2 separate regions of the Homo sapiens genome follow, and region 2 is linked to region 1. Evidence: fine-mapped expression QTL. A gene starts in region 1. The other region holds a variant in brackets. All regions are shown on one strand. Distances are from middle to middle.

The links.
Region 2: its variant is fine-mapped to the expression of EXOSC6 in esophagus muscle (GTEx, PIP 0.96).

What each region holds. Positions count from the first base shown.
Region 1 is chr16:70,250,819-70,253,721 of GRCh38, reverse strand. It overlaps EXOSC6 (exosome component 6), which reads left to right and starts at 1,782. Exons shown (of 1, transcript NM_058219.3): 1 at 1,782-2,903. The coding sequence starts at 1,822. The coding sequence ends at 2,640. AARS1 (alanyl-tRNA synthetase 1) reads left to right here. Exons shown (of 21, transcript NM_001605.3): 19 at 1-8; 20 at 341-454; 21 at 816-1,424. The coding sequence ends at 1,001. RefSeq lists enhancers at 241-741, 1,376-1,565, 1,606-1,655 and silencers at 2,036-2,125, 2,256-2,575.
Region 2 is chr16:69,736,937-69,739,839 of GRCh38, reverse strand. All of the region lies in intron 1 of NQO1-DT (NQO1 divergent transcript), which reads right to left. Among named protein-coding and RNA genes, the nearest start is that of NQO1-DT, 12 kb to the right of the region's middle. The variant C/T (reference allele first, on the strand shown) is at 1,150.

The DNA.
Region 1 (2,903 bases):
CAGCCAAGGCAACCCAGGGGCCAGGGTCCCCTCCCCTAGGGCTCATCAGCTCTCTGGTGGCTGACATGTGGCCTCTGTGGCTCTGAGCGAAGTGGTTGCCTAAGGGCCCACGGTCTGGGATTGAGATTGGGAGGAGCAGCAGCTCCCTGCATGTGGGAGGCATACCTGGGCCAGGGTAGGGGCAGGGCCCGGCGCTGGGGTCCTCCCCACAGGCCCTGGGCACAGCCCCTGCTCTGGGAAGGGGTAGGGGTGGGTGGCAGGCCTTCTGAGGGCTGCAAATGCTCACACTAGTGAGGGTCCCTGCTCCAGCACCGTGGCCTGAGCCAGGTCCTCCCCACAGGCCCTGAATGAAGCCTTGAAGCTCTTCAAGATGCACTCCCCTCAGACTTCTGCCATGCTCTTCACGGTGGACAATGAGGCTGGCAAGATCACGTGCCTGTGTCAAGTTCCCCAGGTCAGCACCACCTCGCACCAGTGGGAAGTGTTAGGTCTTAAGGTTGTTGGCTGAGGCCTGTGTGTGTACAGCCTGCATTCGAAACAGCCTTTCTGCCCACCGGTTGGTTACCTTTGCCAGTACCCCTTACCCAGGCCTTCTTATTGGTGAAGACATCTGGTTGATACCTGGCTTTGCCACTCTGTCCTGTCCTGGCAGTGGCCATGGCCGCCCCCTGTACCAGCCGTAAAGTCTGTCTCGGCCTCCAGCAGTATCACCCAGGGCAAGGAGTGGGTGATGGCTCCTCCATCCTTTCTTTCCCTGCATTCCTCCCTCAATCCCATCTTCTGTGCTGACTCCCCCTTCCCTTCCTGTCTTCTAGAATGCAGCCAATCGGGGCTTAAAAGCCAGCGAGTGGGTGCAGCAGGTGTCAGGCTTGATGGACGGTAAAGGTGGTGGCAAGGATGTGTCTGCACAGGCCACAGGCAAGAACGTTGGCTGCCTGCAGGAGGCGCTGCAGCTGGCCACTTCCTTCGCCCAGCTGCGCCTCGGGGATGTAAAGAACTGAGTGGGGAAGGAGGAGGCTCCCACTGGATCCATCCGTCCAGCCAAGAGCTCTTCATCTGCTACAAGAACATTTGAATCTTGGGACCTTTAAAGAGCCCCTCCTAACCCAGCAGTAACTGGAACACACTTGGGAGCAGTCCTATGTCTCAGTGCCCCTTAAATTTCTGCCCTGAGCCCTCCACGTCAGTGCCATCGGTCTAGAACCACTAACCCCGCATTGCTGTTGATCGTCACGCTCGCATCTATAGATAACGGCTCTCCAGACCTGAGCTTTCCGCGTCAGCAAGTAGGAATCGTTTTTGCTGCAGAGAATAAAAGGACCACGTGCAATACTTAATGCCGCATGATCTCTATCCCTCTTCCCAATAGGGGCTGGCTCTTTTGACAGCCTTTGGCGTCTGTAGAATAAATGCTGTGGCTCCTGCTGGCTGCTGTGGTGTTCACCTAGTCCAGCCCCAGAACCCAAAATTTTGGGAACAGCCCCTAGGGCTGCCTCAAACGTCTGTGGAGGTGGAGGCCAAATAGGTGGGGTGACTTGGAGCAAGGCGTTCATAATTCAGTAGATGAGGGGTGGAGGTAGTTGGAAGCAGAGAAGCCTTTCTTGGAGCTGCTCTCCCCCCTCCCTTCCAGCAAGATGGATGGATCCGGCTACCCTGCACAACTGGGACCGGGCCGTTCTCCCTCCGGGCCTCCAGGGGCGCTGTAGTGCCTCCCGCCGCTCTCTCGACAGCCCATGCGCAGCCGCGCGTCTTTAAACAACGGAAGAACCAGTGGATGCGGCAGGGCGTTGGGCGGAAGGGGTTCGCACGCCAAGAACCGCCATGCCTGGGGATCACCGCCGCATCCGCGGCCCTGAAGAATCGCAGCCGCCGCAGCTGTACGCGGCCGACGAGGAGGAGGCGCCCGGCACCCGCGACCCAACGCGGCTACGGCCCGTGTACGCGCGCGCCGGGCTGCTGAGCCAGGCCAAGGGCTCGGCCTACCTGGAGGCGGGAGGCACCAAGGTGCTGTGTGCCGTGTCGGGCCCGCGACAGGCCGAGGGCGGCGAGCGCGGCGGCGGCCCGGCCGGAGCAGGCGGCGAGGCCCCGGCCGCGCTGCGCGGTCGCCTGCTCTGCGACTTCCGCCGCGCACCCTTCGCGGGCCGCCGGCGCCGCGCTCCCCCGGGCGGCTGCGAGGAGCGTGAGCTGGCGCTGGCGCTGCAGGAGGCGCTGGAGCCGGCTGTGCGCCTGGGCCGCTACCCGCGCGCGCAGCTCGAGGTGTCGGCGCTGCTGCTGGAGGACGGTGGCTCGGCCCTGGCCGCCGCGCTCACCGCCGCCGCGCTCGCCCTGGCCGACGCGGGCGTGGAGATGTACGACCTGGTGGTGGGCTGCGGCCTCAGCCTCGCGCCGGGGCCCGCGCCCACCTGGCTCCTGGACCCCACGCGGCTCGAGGAAGAGCGCGCCGCCGCCGGCCTCACCGTGGCGCTCATGCCTGTGCTGAATCAGGTGGCCGGGCTGCTGGGCAGCGGCGAGGGCGGCCTGACAGAGAGCTGGGCGGAGGCCGTACGCCTGGGCCTCGAGGGCTGCCAGCGCCTCTACCCCGTGCTGCAGCAGAGCCTGGTGCGGGCCGCCCGCCGCAGGGGCGCCGCCGCCCAGCCCTGAACCAGAAGCCTGAGCAACTACGGACGCAAGCCGAGGACCGTGCTGCCGCCGTCCACGAAAAGACCCGCGCCATCGGCCTCCAGTTTGCGTCGAGAATTCCTGGAAGGGCCCTGATATGACTGTGGTTGGACTGACCTGACTGCCAGATGGTGGGACTTGGTCTGGAGCAGGGACTACTTGGAATGATAAAGGCAAAACTCAACAGCCCCTGGAGCTGCGCTTGTGGTGGAGCTGGACCCTGAAATTACCTGGACCTTTTTTTT
Region 2 (2,903 bases), 510 kb after region 1:
ACCCTGTATCTGCTAAAAATACAAAATTAGCCTGGCATGGTGGCAGGCACCTGTAATCCTAGCTACTTGGGAGGCTGAGGCAGGAGCATGGCTTGAACCCGGGAGGCGGAGATTGTGGTGAGCTGAGATCGTGCCATTGCACTTCAGCCTGGGCAACAAGAGCAAGACTCCCGTCTCAAAAAAAAAAAAAAAAAGTGATGGGCCAGTTGCTGTGGTTCACGCCTATGATCCCAACACTTTGGGAGGCCAAAGTGGGAGGATTGCTCAAGTTCAGGAACTTGAGACCAGCTTGGGCAACATAGTGAGACCCCATCTCTAAAAAATATACAAAAATTAACATGTATGGTGATACACACCTACAGTCCCAGCTACTTGGGAGGCTGAGGTGGGAGGATTGCTTAAGCCCGAGAGGGTGAGGTTGCAATGAGTTGAGATCATGCCACTGCACTCCAGCCTGGGTGACGGAGAGAGACCGTGTCTCAAAAGAAGAAAAACTTACTGCCTGGACGCAGTGATCCAGACCAGTAATCCCAACGTTTTGAGAGGCTGAAGCCCGCAGATCACTTTAGCTCAGGAGTCCAATACCAGCCTGGCCAACATAGTGAAACCCTGCAAACAAATAAAAATCAGTGAAACAAATTAGTTGCACATGGTGCTGCCTGTAGTCCCAGCTACCTGGGAGGCTGAGGTAGGAGGATCACTTGGGCTCGGGAGGAGGAGAGGGTTGCAGCTGAGATCCTGCCACCAAACTCCAGCCTAGGTGACAGAGCAAGACCCTGCCTGTCACAAAAAAAAAAAAAAAAAAGGCATGGCACAGTGGCTTACACCTGTAATCCTAGCACTTTGGGAGGCCAAGGTGGGCGGATCACTTGAGGTCAGGAGTTTGAGACCAGCCTGGCCAACATGGCGAAACCCCATCTCTACTAAAAATACAAAAAAAAAGCCAGGCATGGTGGCGCACACCTGTAGTCCTAGCTACATGGTTGGCCAACATGGCGAAACCCTGTCTCTACTAAAAATACAAAAATTGGCTGGGTGTGGTGGTGGGCACCTGTAATCCCAGCTACTCGTGAGGCTGAGGCAGGAGAATTGCTTGAACCTGGGAGGCGGAGGTTGCAGTGAGCCGAGATGGTGCCAATGCACTCTAGC[C/T]TGGGCAACACAGCGAGACTCTTACATACATACATACATACATACATACATACATACATAACATAACATACATACATAGACATAAAAATAAGAATAACCAAATAACCAGGCCGGGCATGGTGGCTCACACCTGTAATCTCAGCACTTTAGGAGGCCAAGGCCAGTGGATAACTTGAGGTCAGGAGTTCGAAAGCAGCCTGGCCAACATACTGAAATCCCGTCTGTACTAAAAATACAAAAATTAGCTGGGCCTGGTGGTATGTGCCTGTAATCCCAGCTAGCCTCCGTCAAAAAAAAACACGACTCAATTTGCTACCTTGAATCAAGTCTCTTCAGAACAAATGAATGTCCTTTTTGAGAGAAATGAGCATTTTGTTGTTGTTTTTGTTTTGTTTTTTTGAGATGGAGTCTTGCTCTGTCACCCAGGCTGGAGTGCAGTGGCACAATCTCGGCTCACTGCAACCTCCATCTCCCAGGTTCAAGTGATTCTCCTGCCTCAGCCTCCCGAGTAGCTGGGATTACAGGCGCATACCGCCACATGTGGCTAATATTTGTATTTTTAGTAAAGATGGGGTTTTACCATGTTGGCCAGGCTGGTCTTAAACTCCTCACCTCAGGTGATCCACCTGCCTCGGCCTCCCAAAGTGCTGGGATTACAGGAGTGAGTCACTGTGCCTGGCAGAAATTTCAGTTTAATCAGAGTGTTCTAAGCCCAGTAAAGGATGGCCTAATTCCGGCAATACATAACTTAAATTAGAGCAGGACACACCAAAACACAGGAAGCCCAACACAATGGTGTGAGTGCTGTGTAATAGCCATAGTGGTGGCGGGTAGGAGGACAGGAAGGGATGGATGGGGTTTCTAGTAGAAGAATCTCTTCTACCCTAATACCAAGAACATTTTCTCCCCCAGAAATACTTGGCTGGAATCCACAGGAACCACTGAGGATAACCCAGGTCCCCAGACAGGCTCAACAATGGCTCTGAGCTAATATACAAAGTCCATCATCCGCAGCACAGAGAAAAGGAAGGGGTCTTTGGGGACTTCTCCTTGTGCAGAAAAGCAGCCACCCAGGTGGACACCATGCATTAGCAGGTGGCTCATGAGGATGCTTGTGTTCTTTCATCAGAAGGAGAGGGCTCCTGAGAATTCTCCAACTCCCGGCTTTTAATTTCTAGATAATGAAGACAACAAAGCTTCCTATAGCTCTGAGGTCCTCGCCTGCTCCAACGTGGGCGACAGAGTGAGACTCTGTCTTAAAAAAAAAAAAAAAAAAAAAAAAAACAGGGCAGGGAGCAGGTGCGGTGGCTCATGCTTGTCATCCCAGCAGTTTCGGAGGCTGAGGCGGACGGATCACTTGAGGTCAGGAATTCCAGACCAGCCTGGCCAACAGGATAAAACCCCATCTGAACTAAAAATACAAAAAATTAGCTGGGCGTGGTAGCACATGCCTGTAATCCCAGCTACTTGGGAGGCTGAGGCAGGAGAATCACTTCAACCCAGGAGGCAGAGGCTGCAGTGAGCTGAGATTGCACCACTGTACTCCAGCCTTAACAACAGAAAGAGACTCCATCTCAAAAAAAAAAGGAGAAGATTGATAAGCTAGAACAGACGGAATACAAAGACCTCAGGTGCTTACGGAGAGAAAAAGCAGATCACATCCAAATGGTCAGGAAGCAAGTGATAAATTCTCCCTGAAAACTGGAGAACATAGATCAATGCCTTCAAAATTCCAAGAGGCAACAATTTTCAAC